Regions from separate parts of the Homo sapiens genome. Here region 1 is linked to region 2. The links come from fine-mapping of genetic effects on gene expression. Tissue or cell type: whole blood. Region 2 holds a variant in brackets; the other region holds the start of a gene. All regions are shown on one strand. Distances are from middle to middle.

Region 1 (8,108 bases), 250 kb before region 2:
CTACACATGTACCCAGAGCCTCGATGTGCCCAAGTGATGTACTATCCTCTCTCTGGTCTCCTAATTCAGTTATTTCAGGTAAAAGAAATCAAATAGTCCTACCTAACTCAATATTTGAAGACCTTGAAAAAGGAGGAAAAAATAATTAGTAAAGAATTAAAGTAAAAGATAAAAAGAAAAATAAAAAATGATTTGTGACAATTAAATGATGGTAGCCTTTGCTTTGTTTAGGTTCTTTTTGAATAATCATGCATTCACTCTTTCAACAACTATTTATTTTGTGCTTTATACTTTTTTATAGGCTCTTCTAGGTATTGTAGAGTACTAACGAGCTGGAGGGACACATACAATATAGTAAATGTGCAGGATGAAAAAAGACCAACTAAATTTCCTTAAAGAAGTCAAAGATTCGCAGAAGAGGTGAGACATTTCTGCTGGAATAGAATTATGAGTTTAAATAGTGGGGAAGAGGGATGGTATTCCAGACAGAATTTCTGACACAGTAAAAGTCACTTGAGTCTGTTAGGTTGCTAAAAGTGGGAGCTGGGATGGGGAATTATGGCAGAATATAAAGTTGGAACGACCAGCTAGGGTTACATAGTAAGGAACAATGGATTCCCATGCCAAGGTGTTTGGCCTTTATCCTGCAATCAGAGTTATGAAGAATTTCTAAGCAGGGGAGGGATAAGACCATGGGCTAAGCCTTCTTAGAGACCACTCCATAAAACCACATCCTTTATATACATAGAAGGACAGCTGGGTCCAGCTTGGTCACTGGGGCAGATATAACCACAGGTAAATCATTATAAAGTTTAATAAAAATTAAACCTTGAATAAAAAACTAAGCCTTACAGTTTTAATAATAAGTTTATTACTAGAAGGCATCAAAGTATTTCATGTGCTCTAACTTAAAAACTTAAAGTTGAGTTCACACATAGTCCTAACTAAAAATCAATGGTTCAGAAATTGGCAACTAGTATAATTATAATTATGCAATAAATACATATGTAAAAGTTTTCCTCAGAAAATGAAATAAAACTCAATTGGAATAGACAGAAGAAAAATTATTATTATGGTAATAAATACATACGTGGAATCTGTATCCTAAAATATAAATTAAATATAAGCCAGTGGACAAAATGTGGCTGAGTAAAGCTGGACTTTGCATATCATCAAAAATGGAAAAAGAAACAGTGTTGAATTATATTTCTAAGGAGTGTAGTGGCCAAGAAAAGAATCTACAATAAAGGAACATAAATTAGGAACTAAGGTACTAACAACTCATTTGTTCCCTTCCTCTTTTCTGCTGATAGTTCTCTTTTTCATCAATCCCAATGGGATTTTAGAGATCTCCCAATCCAATAGTCCTCCCCACCGTTTTACTTTAGCAGTTGAGTTCTGCAAATAGTTGTATATAAAATCCCAGCATATAAAACAGGTAAAAGCTGAAAGAGATCCAAGAGAGGGTACTAGAGCACCTAATTTGGCCTCCACTTCAGCCTTCATCCACTTTCCCTCTGAAACAGCTCCCCAAAGAGCCCTTAATTTTCCTCAGTAAAGTGTAAAACACATTGGTCCTTGTCCCAACCCTCCTAATTTACAAATGAGGGAATTATGCCCTAGAGAATTAATTTAAGGGAGTTGCCTGAGAAAAAAGATTATTTCCTAGTACCCCTGCTAAAATTAAAATGTTTTCTCTTCCTCATAAACTTGAACTCAAATGTCTGGGTTAAAAATTGTTTCTTGGCTGGGGACACAGTGGCACACGCCTGCAATCCCAGCCCTTTGGGAGGCCAAGACAGGGGCATCGCTTGAGCCCAGGAGTTCAAGACCAGCCTAGGCAAGATGACAAAATCCCATCTCTATTTTTAAAAATAAAAAAATTTTTAAATTATTTCTAAGTTATTCTGGAAGTCTATGACATCCCTCTACCACAAATTCCCATTCCAAATTCACATAAGGGCTGGGCTCAGTGGCTCACACCTGTAATCCCAACACTTTGGGAGGCTGATGCAGAAGGATTATTGAGCCCACAAGTTCAAGACTAGCCTGGGCAACATAGTGAGCCTTGTCTCTGCACAATTAACAACAACAAAATTTCACATAGGTCTATAACCACATATTATATGAGTGCCTACTTGAAGCCAGATACTCTGCTAAGAGTACGTTATCTGCTCTCATTCAACCATCACCACAAACCCCAAGAGATCAAGGAACTAGGCTCACAGAAGTACTGTAACCTGCCCAAGGTCACAGAGCTAGCAGGGTGGAATCCGGTTCTATCTGACTCCTAAAGCCAAGCTTCAGACCCTTGCACTCTTTCTAATCCCAACCTTTTCCAAATCTTTTCCTATTTTTACACAGGCTTTCAGAAATGCTGAACTGTAAGGATTACTTGTCATTTCACAGAGGATGTACTTTTCCATCAAGACCTGTGGGGGAATGCCTCATGCTGCAGCCAAGCACAAAGGCATCAAGCCCAAAAACCTCTAATTTCACGTTACAGACCATAGAAAGGCTAATCCCCACCCCCACCACAAACTCCTACAACTCCTTTTACAAGCATAGGCTACATACATTCAGTCTTATGGGGAATAGGGACTGTCAACAATTCTTAATAATAGGGCTACAAAATCAGCTCTGAGCTGACCCCTTCTGAGAGGCTGGCTTTTAGGATGGATAACTATCCAATATTTTCTAATAGGTAAAGATATTAAAATTTGTATTTAGGGCTGCCTTGGGGCAAAGGATGACTATCACCGCAGACTAGGTACCAGAGCTGGCATTTAATAATTTGAATTTGAGGGAAGGTCAAGGGAGTTCGGATTGGGGCACCCTCTGGGAGCAGAGGGAGTTGAAGTGACTGTCGTGTCCAATTACAGAAAAGCCTGAATCAAGAGTATGCAGCCAAAACTACTACCAAATTATTGGTAATGGGAGGAGAAAATTTAAACAGAACTGGGATTTGGGACCACCTTCTGGAAGATGTTAGCCAAAAACCGAACAGATCCTAGGCATCAAGGGGTGTGAATTTCGAGGTAGGCTCCGTTGCCCGGGCTCTGAGGGTCAGGGTTCCCGGCGGTTGGGCCTGGGACGGCGAAGCCCCCGCTCCCCCTTACCTTCTGTTGGAAGTAGAGAACCGAATAGTTCTTGGCTACAGCCGGGAGGGATGTGGGGTTGGTTGGCAAGTGTAGGCTGCCGAGGGCCCTTAAGGCCGGCCGGAGGGCTATGGTGGCCCAGGGCGCCAGAAAAGACAGAAGCAGGAGCAGGAGGGCTCGGCGGCCCATGGCTCAGGCTGGAGACTGCAGTGCGGGTGGGAGGGCGAAAAGGAGGCCAGCAGAAGCGCACAGGCTAAGCCCTGCCCAGCCTGCAGCTCCGCCCGCCGCAAAACAGCTCCTCCCAGGGGAAACCCAAAGCCAGCCAGCTCCTCAGAGACGCCGCCCAAGCCAGGTCACCACAGCCACTCCGCCCCCATCCCCGAGGACACCGCCTCCACTCCACTTTCCTCTCGTGCCATCTGCTCCTTAGCACTCACCTTCATTGCGGTCACACCCCAAGTCTGCCCTTATCATGCTAGGGCCTCTTCCTAACTCATCGCTGTAGCCCATGCTTTATCTATAGCGCCCCCGAAGCCCACCTGTCCTTCAGGTCACCCAATATCCCTACCATTATCATCACCACCAAACCCTGCCCTGGCCACCGCAATTCCATTGCGACACCTCCTGCCTTCCGCAAATCCTACGTAACGGCAATAACAGCTACCATGACAATTTATTGAAGGTTCACTACAGGCCAGTGTATCACGAGGCAGGGAGGCACACGCATCATCTCCTCTAACTAAATCGTCACAGCAATCTTGTGCGTCGTATATGATTGTTATTCCCATCTACAGATGTGGAAACTGAGGCTCAGAGAGGTGCGGGAACTTGCACTAGATCACTCAGCAGTGAGCGGAGCACGTCGTCGCAGACCGCTGGGTCCAGGTCCAAAGACTGTGCTCCTTGCACCCACCTCCATCTGGAGCCTAACCACTCCCTATGATACTCCGTTCTTGGGTCACCCCAAAACTGTGTTGCTCGCACAACCCATCCATTACACAGGTCGCCCCGGGTCCACATCGCCCCTAAATCCCGCCAGGTCCCGGTCCCTTCTTTCAAATAACGCCCCCTTTCTTCTCCGGCACCCGAAAACCCACTCCGCGCTCCACCCCCCTCCTGCCTCCTGCCACCGCCCCCTTCCTCCCTCCGCCCGTGGGTAGTGCTAGCCCCTAGGACAGCGCCGGGTCTGGCTTCCAAAGCTCCCTCAACCCTCTTCATCCAGCTTCCATTCCCTCTTTCAGTCACCCCGCCAGACCCCAGGGCGCTGCGGCTCACTCCACACTTTCCCGGGAACCCTACGCCCAGGAGGCTCAGCGAAGCTCCAAAACCAATTTTACGGACTGTACTACTGATCCACCTGTCGGGGAGAAAGACTCTACCCGCAGTTTGACGAAAATGGTCGTTTCCAGATGCTTGTAGGATTTCCTCGCTAAGCTCCACCCTCTGCGGCGCCTTCTTCTGATTGGCTCTGAGTAATCAGAGCCAAAGCGTTACTTCCGGCGGAAAAGGACGCGGGAGATTCGATTGGAAGGCTGCCGGCGTGCTACTGAGTTCGGCCGGTCCGAGTCACTGTGCGTCGCCTGGGCCCGTTCCTGGTCTTCTCCCCCAGGTGAGCTGGGTAAAGGGGTTCTCGGGAAGCCGAAGAGCCGGAGACTCCTAAGGAGGCTCTTAACTTCATTATGAATGAGACCCACCCAGAGCCCGGCGCTTGTTTTTTCACAAGTGGTTCTCTGTAAACGGGCAGCCATGAGGGTAACAGAATATAAACGTCAGTTATTTTATTTTAGACTCAGTGCTTTTGCAATCACCTAACGAACGTTTATTGAACACTTACAGTGCCATCGAGCTAGACTCGGAGTGAGCTTTTAGAATCGGAAATAGAGAGGAAAAGGCGCGACTCTTGCTTCTGTAATGTGCAAATACGTATTCAGTGGGCCACTGTGCAGAGTAGTACGTGCTGAAAGGGGATCTTCCAAAATGCTATGATGGCTTAGAAGGAACATATTTTAACTGAGCCATGTGCTTAAACCAGAGCTTGAAAGTTTTCTTCCTTTTCACATCCAGCCAGTCCCTACCAGCCTCTTGAATATCTCAGATCTGTTCACTTCTCTCCGTTTTTTACTGACATTATTTTGGTTCGACCCTATGACTGCTACATAGCTGTGACAGTAACCCCCCCCTCCCCCGCCGCCCCAGCTGGTTCTCCTGCTTTCAATCTTGCTACCTTCCAGTCCAGTCTCCACATTGCTGGGCTGATAAAGTTCATATTTGACCGAGGCACTCCCCATTGAAAACCTTTCAGTCGCTCCTATTTGCCCTCAGGTTTAAGCCCAAACTCTTTAACATGACTTACAGACTCTTTCCTATCTGACTTTTGCCTGGCTCTTCAGCCCTAGTGGTTTTCCACCGCTCCAGCCATATAGAATGTCTTTTGTGTTCCTGAAGTGCACTATCCTCCTTCTCACCCCAAACCGTCTTCTGACCCTGTCCCTGACCTGGCTAATTCTTAGTCAGTTTGCAAAGCCTTTTAAATCAGAAACCCTTTCCTGACCCCACAGGACTGGATCACAGAGCACCAAGTAATTATTTGTTTATTCTGCAGATAGTTAAATGCTTCTTTCGTCTGTGCCAAGAATTGCTAGGTACTGAGATCCAATGATGAACAAGGTAGATTCCTGTTCTAATGGAACTTACCTTTTATGGATGGAATTAAGGAGAATTTACAAGGAAACTATGTGAATTAGACTGGTCTAAGAAGACCTTTCCAAGGAGTTGATACTGATGCCTAAAAGATGAGCGTGATCCAACCATGCAAAAGAGGGAAAGAAAAACATTCTAAACAGAGTGAACAGGTTGTGCAAACGTCCTGAGGCAGGAAAGAGCTTGACATGTTAATGTTCAAGAATCTAAGGAAAGACCAGTATAGCTGGAATATATTTAGAAAGGACAGTTGTATGAGATGAGTCTGGAAAGATGGGCAGAGACCGGATCATGGTTAGGAGGTTAATCCAGCACCATAAACAGGAGATAATGGTGATTTGGATTAAGATGATGGCAGAATATATGAGGGAAAAGTGAATGATGGTTTCTAAGTATGGAAGTAGATTCAAGTACCTTCTGATGAGTGTGATGTGGGATATGAAGGAAAGGGAGGAATGACAAATGACTCCTAGGTATCTGGTTTGAGTTACTGGTTAGTGAGTAGTACCATTTACTGAGATGTGACCTTCTCCATCCCTGTAATAAATGTCTCATAAATGATATCAATGGAAAAACTGTATCGTACTAAGATTTTCCTGGTTCATGTTTTTAAAGCATTTTTCATCAGTATTTCTCCTTTCACTGAAGATTTTGTCTCTTTGTTTTTTTGCTTACTTAATTTTCACTCTCCTGCCTGCCTCTCTTACTTTTCTAGAATTTTCGTGTCAATGTTACTAAATTATTTTTTAGGGACTTATTATGACTGCCTTTAGAAAAATTAAACAAGTATGTGCCATTGGAGGAGACCATTAGACAGTGTTAAGAAAACAATTCAAAACAGCCACCCTTCCCATAGCTGAGGCCTCTTGGCCTGTAAAATATGAAACAGAAAATTGGAGAATTACAAGGTGACAAAGATTTTCATGCAAGGCAAGAAGGGTTTGGAGAGGAACGAAGAAAGGGAGAAAAATTAGTCATACTTTCTTTTCTTTATGCCATTAGAAGTGGAACTAGTTTTTTAAAGGAGTAATTTCATCCTTTGGGCACAGTCTTGAAGCAAATACACATAGTTTCTTTCAAGTGTGAAGCTTGAGCAAAGAGAGTAATGGACTAGAAAGACTGGTAAGCTACTCATCAGAAGGCATGAGTTCCAGACCTGATTAACTTCTCTGAGTGGATCAGATAATGTTGCAAAAGCACTTTGCAAACTGTAAAGCAGTCAAATGAACTCAAACTGGATTATGAACTTTAAGATAGGATTCACATCTTATACTTTTATGTTCTCTTCAGCCCCATCCCCAGATGCCAGTTTACACTAAATACTTAATTGAACTTTTTCTCTAGGATCTAACATAGAATAAGAATTAGTTTAGATTTTCTAATCTAACCCAGTTTTTCTAGATCTTCTAGTCTAGCCGGAAGAAGAAAAAAAGATGTGTTGGTATGTGCATGTATGGGCACGGTTTTTCATAAATGATTAAGTTGCCTTCTGAGAACTTGATTATGAGGTAGTTAAGCTGAAAGATCACCAAATAATGGATTAGAGTAAAGAATTGCAAAATCATCCAAATGAGACTAAGATGCTGTCAGGCCTTGGGGATTTAACTATAACCATGTTTATCACAAGTGTTACACACCATGAGATAGTCTCAATGACTAGGCTACTGGTTTTCAAGTGTGGGCAATTTGGCCATTACCTGGGAACTTAAAATGCAGATTCTCAGGCCCTTATCCCAGACTTACTGAATCAAACTCTGGAGTTGGAGCCCAGCAATCTGTTTTATCAAGCCTTCTGGGTGATTTTGATATATGATAAAGTTTGAGAAATACTTGTCTAGTATGAAAATGGGATGCAGAGGTTGTAATCAATGAGTTTATATATCTGGTACCACTGACAAAACCATCTCTAGAATGAAAAATGCATCAGGCATTAGCTTGATTCCATTAAATAGTTGATTCACCAAACAGCTCTTCTTCAAGCAACTTTCTGTTTATAATTTTAGTATAATATGAGGTTATACCAAATATACAAATATGGGCTTCTGATATGTCCCTTCCCTGTGATGGTAATTTTTCGTGGTAAATTAGTAGAACATCTTTGGATTACAGTTCAGCTCCCCATATGGCTTGTCTAAAAGGAGAGAAAGCAAGTATTCCAGAATATCCCATGGTAAATTAGATATGTACTATAGTGTGTCCACATGGACCCCACATATTTTAATAAGCATAAGTCTATTGGAGCCTTCATTCCTGGACATTGACCTAGGTAATCCCTGGTATGTGCCCTTTGAAAAATCAAAGGCCAACTGA
Region 2 (8,108 bases):
CAAATACACACACACACACACACACACACACACATATATTCCAGAGGATACTACACATTTTATAAATAAAATTTATGAAATAATATTTTTGGAAGTTTTCTATTAGCTTAGACTTTTTATTCTCTATTTCTAGAGAGAGACCCCAGATAATAATATATAATAATGCAGATTATTATGTGTACAATTAGTTATGAATTCATGTTTTGGAGGTGAGTATTCATTTGCTGCTTGTTCTTTTGCTTTCTTCATCTATATATGGAAGGAGATGCCAATAGATAAGATAAATATATGGGAGCAAAACTTAAAATTAAGAACTATTGTTCACTAAATCATATTTTTCTGCAAATGAGTGAAAAGATTGCTGGCAAAATATATTTTCTAAGTCTTAAAATGATGAACTGGTTTTTGGAATTTGGTTATCACGCATTTGAATTGTGAGCCAGGGTCCTTTCCTGATAATCACTATCTCTAAACTCCATAATACCAAGTTCAACCTCCACCCTAAGTTCTCAACTAATGCTGCATTTGTCTATTCATACTGTTGGAGGATAACAATGGACAAGCAAGGTGAAATTGAAATCAGGGCCTGGATCAGTCAACAAATATTCATTGAATATCTACTACATGCCAATTTTAGAGCCTGGTTTAGAGCCAACATTAGAATGGCTTGATTCTTGCCGTAGCTATCTTTCTAAGCCACAGACTTTAAAAACAAATGCTTTGAATTATACAGCATCTCGACTGTTCTTTAAAGGAAGTCCATGCACATGAAAGGATGAATGTGACACCTTGAGTTTAAAATGCAAGTTAGGACGGGCACTGTGGCTCATTCCTGTAATCCCAGTGTTTTGGGAGGCTGAGGCAGATGGATCACCTGAGGTCAGGAGTTCTTTGAGACCAACATGGCCAACATGGTGAAACCCATTCCCTATTAAAAATACAAAAATTAGCTGGGAATGATGGTGGGCACCTGTAATCCCTGCTACTCAGGAGGCTGAGGCAGGAGAATTGCTTGAACCCAGAAGGCGGAGGTTGCAGTGAGTCGAAATTGTGCCACTGCACTCCAGCCTGGGTGACAGAGCAAGACTCCATCTCAAAAAAAATAAATAAATAAAATATAAATAAATAAATAAATAAATGCAAGTAATTAATATTAAATAGATATATATGCACATGTGTATTATATTTTTGTAAAAATAAAACATAGATTTACACTTCCCAGTCAGAAAGGTGGTGAAATTAAAGAAACAAAAAAAAAGCTTTACATATTGTGTTTATGTGTACGTTCATTGAAAAAGGCATGGAAAGATAGATATTAAACTGTGAGCAGTGGTTACCTTATGGCCAAGGGCAGAGAGATGGAATTTTCATTTTTTCTTTGTGTACTTGTATTTGAATTCTTTAAAATAAGCATGCATTACTTTTGTGGTTATAAAACATGTAAATAATAATGTTGCAGGGAGCAGTGGCTCACTCCTGTAATCCCAACACTTTGGGAGGCCAAAGTGGGAGGATTGCTTCAGCCCAGGAGTTCAAGACCAGCCTGGAAAACATGCCGAAACCCCATCTTCTATCAGAAATACAAAAAACTAGCCGGGTGTAGTGGTGCAGGCCTGTGGTCCCAGCTACTCAGGAGGCTGAGGTAGGAGGATCCCTTGAGCTCTGGAGGCAGAGGTTGCGGTGACCTGAGGTCGCACCACTGCACTCTCCAGCCTGGGTGACAGAGTGAGACCCTGTCTCCAAAAATAAAAAAAGTTTATATAAGTAAACTACATATTTCTAGCAAGAATAAATAAATGTATATGCATATATAACAGGTAAATATTATTGCTGCATATTATCTACATACACTGGGTTTACATATAAAAGGGGGAAATTCTACCTGCTGACAGTGCTCGATAACTATTTGATTTTAAAGGGATTGGCTTTCAATTTTCATTTCCTTTTTTTTTTTTTTGAGACGCAGTCTGGCTCTGTCGCCCAGGCTGGAGGGCAGTAGCATGATCTCAGCTCAGTGCAACCTCTGGGGCCCAAGTGATCCTCCCACCTCAGCCTCCCACAGTGCTGGGATTACAAGCGTGAGCCACAGCGCCCAGTCTATAAATTTTAAAGGAGTAGCTGGGATTACAGGCATACACCACCACACCCAGCTAATTTTTTGTATTTATGGTAGAAGACGGGGTTTTGCCATGTTGGCCAGGCTGGTCTTGAACTCCTGAGCTCAAGCAATCTGCCCTCCTGGGCCTCCCAAAGTGCTGGGATTACAGGCATGAGCCATGGCACCTGGCCTATGTCCTTTCTACTTTTGTGTTTAGTGTCCACATTTCTGTCTTTCTAATGATATAAAAAATTTACATGAGAAGAGTTATTGATTAGATACAACAGAGGTTTCTAAAATTTAAATTAAATTAAAAATTTAATTAATTTATTTTTTGATAATTATTACCACTCCCAGGCTGAGAGATTTTTTTAAAGGAGGAATTAACTCCTCTTGTAAATACTCTGTGAACCAAGGGAAGGGTATAGCTATTTTCCTCAAAAACAATGGAAATGCTTCATATTCTGCAGAAACACAATAATTAGTGGATTTGATTATTGAAAATAGTCCTGGGATACCACTGGTTCCTGGACAAATGTAGTACTTTTTCACATTACTACATGAGGTTATGATTGAGGTATACATTTCATGAAGGTATGGCCAAGGGGCTATCTTGTTCACCACTGCACCTAGCATAGAGATAGGAAATAACCGGGGCTTAATGTTGGTGGAAAGTAAATTCGTTGCATATTCTGATGAAAGAACTGGTAGTGAAAATCCATGAGAGAAGTTTTGTGCACTTATTTGTATTTAAAATTCCAGTTATCTAGTTTGTGCCCTGTCCTGAGTATTTAAAGAAAAAATGTGCTTGTTACAGTACAGCACATGATTTGAATAAGATTGCTAGTCTCTTGAGTTTTCCATGTCATTTGTGGGGACATAAGTTTGTTGATTTATGTGCTAAGATATATTAATTGTTTACTCTGTATATAGTCTGTGAGGGATACAATAAAAGCCAAATCAGAGCTTTGGAGCCTTTTTTTTTTTTTTTTTAGAAGTTCACTTTGCTGTTAAAAGAAAGTTAAAAACTGTAAAAGGCAGACATTTCTATAATGAAATTCACCTTTAAAATGAAAAGAAAATGAACAGAGGACTATTTCACCCTGGTCATTTCCCTCCAGAAAATAAAACCTTTGGACGTTATTAGTTGAAACTTTCTAGTATATCTAAATAGCACCACTAACAATAGTGTGAAATTATTGAGATTATAAATACTTATTTAACAATACTTCTTAGCTTCAAATGAGGGAAGACCAGTTTTCCTCCCCAGGTTTTACTTTTCATTCATGTGTGATATCATGCTAAGAAAAAAATGGAAAATACATGTCAAAACTTAACCTTTGCAGCACACTTTATGCAGTTCATTATGTTTCAATTAGACAACAATAAAGATGCTAAAAAACTCAAAGAAACAAAAAGAAGAAATGAAAATGTTACTTTATATGGGACAAGTAAAGAGTAGTTTGTTTGTTTGTTTGTTTTTTGAGAGAGAGTTTCACTCTGTCGCCCAGGCTGGAGTGCGGTGTTGCGATCTCGGCTCACTGCAACCTCTGCCTCCCGAGTTCAAGTGATCCTGCCTTAGCCTCCCAAGTAGCTGGAATTACAGGCGGCCGCCACCATGCCCGGCTAAGTTTATTTTTTAAGAGCAATTTCTTCTGGGGAGCAACAAATTATCTCTCAAATGCCTAGTAGCCTACGGAAGGCAATGGAAAAGCAATTTTAGGTAATTGACACTTTTTTTTTTTTGAGACAGACTCTCGCTGTCACCAGCCTGGAGTACAGTGGCGTGATCTCGGCTCACTGCAACCTCCACCTCCCGGGTTCAAGCGGTTCTCCTGCCTCTGCCTCCCGAGTAGCTGGGACTACTATAGGCGCACGCCACCACGCCCAGCTAATTTTTGTATTTTTAGTAGAGACGGGGTTTCACCATGTTGGCCAGGGTGGTCTCGATCTCTTGATCTCGTGATCCGCCCGCCTCGGCCTCCCAAAGTGCTGGGATTACAGGCGTGAGCCACCGCGCCCAGCCCGTAATTGACACATTTTAAAAGCTTATATTTAGGTCAATATCGCTACTCAATGAAAAAATTACGTTTGGTTTGTGTTATGTCGCAGCTCCACGGTGAACTATTTGAAAGCTTTGTGTGTTTTACGAGCATCATTTCCAACCTGGGAAGACAGCCCCACAAGTTTAAAACAAAAGTGCATGCGCGTGTGTGTTTTCCTACGTGCCCCAAATAGTGTATGCTAAGGAGGTTCTGAAATGCAGATTCACAGTGGAGATATTACGGTCCAGCTGGGTGTGGCTGTTGTGAAAAACTCTTCCTAGAGCTCATAGTGGGCTCCTTAAAGAGCTCCTCCAAACCCCCAAGGAAAAAGCCTTTCACACTTAATCTCTAAATAAAAGGCATTTTCCTGGGGATTCAAGTCAGGCAAGCTCGCCTAGGTATTTTTGTGGGTGTGGGAAGCGGCGTGCTGGAAGAAACTCTCCAGCAGTGCTTTCCGAAGTTCCGGGTAAATTGGGCACCTCCCTCCCACTTCCCAGTTCCCAGAGGGGCAGCTGGACCCGCCC[T/G]GGCTCTCCAGAGCACCTGAGACGCTAAGGGAGAGGGGGTGCGGCGGCAGAAAGCCTCCGCTCCCTCCAACCCCCGCTCCCTCCAACCCCCACCGTCGGTAGCAGCTACGGGGCAGGCGGGAGGAAAGATGATTGACAGGCCCGCTCAGTGGCTGGGAAGCTAGAGGGAGGGACGAAGAGGGGACGGCTGAGTCTTCTTCTCAAAGTGGTTGGGTTGGGCCGCGGGAACTGCCTTCCCAGGCCTATTGGCTTCCCTGAATGGGTTGTTATGGTAACAAATGACCGAACAGTCCCTTATGAATCGGCCAATGAGAAGGGCCGTCTTTTCCAGTGCGCCTCCGAGCAGTAGATGTTGCGAAAGTCCGGGTAGAGGCCGGAGAAGAAGGCGGTGCCAGGGCGTCCTGCGGAAGGGCCGGGGGCGGGGCTCGTGACGTTGCCGGGACAGCCAATCACGCCTGGTTTTATCAGTGGCCCCGCCCTTTTACCGCACATTTCCCCTCCCCTAGTTCATTTCGCACGACGCAGCGGTTGGGAACACAGACATTTTCGGAGCTGGAGCCGCCACTGCCGCCGCCATTTTGTGTCTGTGGAGAAAGAAGCTTCTGTGGCGGCTGGAAGTGGACGGAGATCACCCGCGAGACGGCGGCGTTTCATACCCGAGGTTCCCCCTGTGTCGTCCCCCATCCCCCCTCCGCGGTCAGCATGTGGTGAAGCCGGAGCCGCGAGAGAGCCGGGGAGAGGAAGAGGAGTCGGAAGGGAGGCGGGGTATCCAGAGCGGCTTCAGCTTCAGCTGCAGCGGACCTCGGAGGGGGGCCGCGGCGCAATGTCAGAGCAGACGCCGGCCGAGGCCGGTGCTGCGGGGGCCCGGGAGGACGCCTGTCGGGATTATCAGTCATCGCTCGAAGACCTGACCTTCAATAGCAAGCCGCACATCAATATGCTGACCATTCTAGCCGAGGAGAACCTGCCCTTCGCCAAGGAGATCGTCTCTCTCATCGAGGCCCAAACCGCCAAGGTTTTTATACACCCCGCAGCCTCCTATTACTTCTAATACTCCCTGATTTTAGTGTCAGCCTCATCCCAGGTCTCGCTTCCATCCCAAGGGGGACAGTGTTCCTTCTCTCCAACCCCCCCACCCCCCTCCAACTCAGGCTCGGTCTTTGGCCCAGGCTTCGAGCATGGGCCTCTGGGGGGGAGGGAGTGGGGAGGATAAAGGGTGGAGTCCCACTTCCGCTTTCCAACTCCCTTTTTAGGCCACCGCATTGTATATCCCGACACACACACGCTTTGAATAGAGCCCTTTGGGGTGGGGGAGACTTAAAGGCAGTTTGTGGTTTGGGGAAGTAAGAGTTAACATAAGCCATTTTAATTCCCTGGGAAGTGGGAGAGTGGGTCTCCCATTTTCCCCAAGCACCCTTTTTGGTAATTGTGTTCTGTGGGTTGGAAGGAGGTGAAGGGGGACCTGGGAGCGAGCTGTTGGTGGGTGGGAATAGGGATTTGGCCCCGAGTGGAGCAGCCGCCTGTTAGGAGCCCAACATGGCGCCTGAAAAGCACATGATGCGAAAGGGAAGAGAGGAGAATCCATTCCCTGCCAGCCAGGCAGCTGCTCACTCCCGTCAGCCCCATTTTGGGGTGGGGGCGGCTAGATAAAACTTTTATTCTCCTATTGGAGGGTCTAATTTGTCCCAAAATAGGGGCAAGTGGGGTTGAGGGTGGGGTTTGGGTGGGGGGAGGAGATCTTATCCAACCTGTAGGTGGAGAACTGGCCCAGAGGGTAACAAGTACTTGCAGTTTCTCTGAAAAGTTCAGTCCCTCCTCCTCTTCCTTTTCTCTTTTTCTCCCTTCCCTGATAGCGAAGGAGTGTTTTTCTTTACCCCTTGACAGAAGTGGTCCTCTGCCACCTTATATTTCCCTGTAGTCCTCCTCTTCTGTGGATTCATATGGGAGCGATATGTCATTTAAGTAAAGTTACTGTTCAACTTAGTTACAATGAGTTTTAATAGCGTCCCAGTGCTACATTTTATTTTTCAAGCTTGTACTCACGGTTTAGTTTTTTCTAGTTGTTAGTGATTGCAATTATCAGGATGAGCCTCCTTTTAGCAGAGTGAACCCCTTTTTAAAGGCCACTTTAACAACAACCACCAATATATTGTTTAGAGACGGTTTCTGTCTAGTGTAAAACTTGAGTGGTCTGACTCTAATAAATGGTTTTGAAATGTGTGACTGGTATTATAAAATTTGTGAATAAAACATATAAAATATGTATTTGTCTTTTTTATTTACCTTTGTAAGGTGTAGAATCTGTTTCCAAGACTTATTTTTATCTACGTGGTTGTGTGTTTTAAACAAAAGTCTTTAAGTGACTTGGGTTCATTCTTCTTTAGGTTCCATCCACTCTTTTGGGTAAACCTCTTCACAAGATACACGGTTTCAGGTGGTCCTTTCATAATTTAAAGAGGACGAAAAGGAAGGGTTTTTTTTCTTTTTCCTTTTAAGGACCTCAACAAGTTTATCATGCTCAGTCTGACAGCTAAGATACAAGTTTTCGTTCACTTTTTCCTGTGAAAGTGTATGTAAAACAGCTTTTTTTTTTAAGTGTGAGATTTAAAAAGGAAGCATTCGTCATACTCAACATGCTTTTTATTGATACCACAAACATCTTGGACATGAAAACTTAGTTTTTGCCTTGTTGAAGGCTTAACTTGACATTAAATGCCTTAAAGCACTTGTGTTTTTAAGGCAAAAACATTGATTTTTAAAATCTAATTACCTCGTATCTTGGGATTTAATATTCCACAGCGCCTAATATTTAGCAGCTCAGGTTGTCACTCAAAGAACCTTGCTGGTTTTTAATGGATCCGGAAGACCTTCGAGAACCGAAAACTAAATGCTGAATATAGTGACCACATAAAACTTGTGTTTGTATATCGCTACACAGTGATGAAAATAGATGAGCTCTTTGCTGGTAAAAGACAGCTGAAATTTTGGGGGCACACGTTTCCTGGTTATTTTTGTAAAGCCAGGTTGAGGAAAAGATGTAAAAGTCACTTTGGGGGATCTATCTTAATCTGGGTTGGGATCGAGGGTGAGGGGAGGGATTTCCGTTATTTGGTAGCAAACTGGCCTGGTTTTGTGTTTTGGAGGTGAATGTTTGTGTCCTTATTCTTTAGCTTCTCTGCGTTACTAAACTTAAAGGATTCACACTTAATTTGACTCCTCCCAAGAGAGAGCAGTAGCGAAAAATAATACATAAAAGGACTTCACTTGTACAATAAAAAATTAGCCTACTTAACAGACTTTGGTGTTTAAGAGAGCCTGTTTATCTTCATAAGTACAATAATGACTAAAATGGTGTAAAACATGACATGGTAAGGTAAAGACACAGCAGTAAACCATTTGACATGTTCGTACTTAATATAGTTGACCCACATGCAGTGGGTG

What was found. PIP is the estimated chance that this variant, and not a neighbour inherited with it, causes the effect.
Region 1: it holds the start of DDIAS, and the variant in region 2 is fine-mapped to the expression of DDIAS in whole blood (INTERVAL, PIP above 0.99).

The regions. Positions count from the first base shown.
Region 1 is chr11:82,897,116-82,905,223 of GRCh38, forward strand. DDIAS (DNA damage induced apoptosis suppressor) reads left to right here and starts at 4,621. Exons shown (of 6, transcript NM_145018.4): 1 at 4,621-4,707. PRCP (prolylcarboxypeptidase) reads right to left here and starts at 3,315. Exons shown (of 9, transcript NM_005040.4): 1 at 3,120-3,315. The coding sequence starts at 3,287. LOC124902602 reads right to left here and starts at 4,940. Exons shown (of 2, transcript XM_047427953.1): 1 at 4,933-4,940; 2 at 3,799-4,566. The coding sequence starts at 4,940. The coding sequence ends at 3,909. RefSeq lists enhancers at 3,041-3,090, 3,211-3,270, 3,421-3,520, 3,801-3,850 and silencers at 4,061-4,110, 4,161-4,250.
Region 2 is chr11:83,151,950-83,160,057 of GRCh38, forward strand. It overlaps PCF11 (PCF11 cleavage and polyadenylation factor subunit), which reads left to right and starts at 5,182. Exons shown (of 16, transcript NM_001346413.3): 1 at 5,182-5,682. The coding sequence starts at 5,491. RefSeq lists silencers at 4,758-4,837, 6,288-6,347 and enhancers at 5,038-5,087, 5,152-5,941, 5,238-5,487. The variant T/G (reference allele first, on the strand shown) is at 4,668.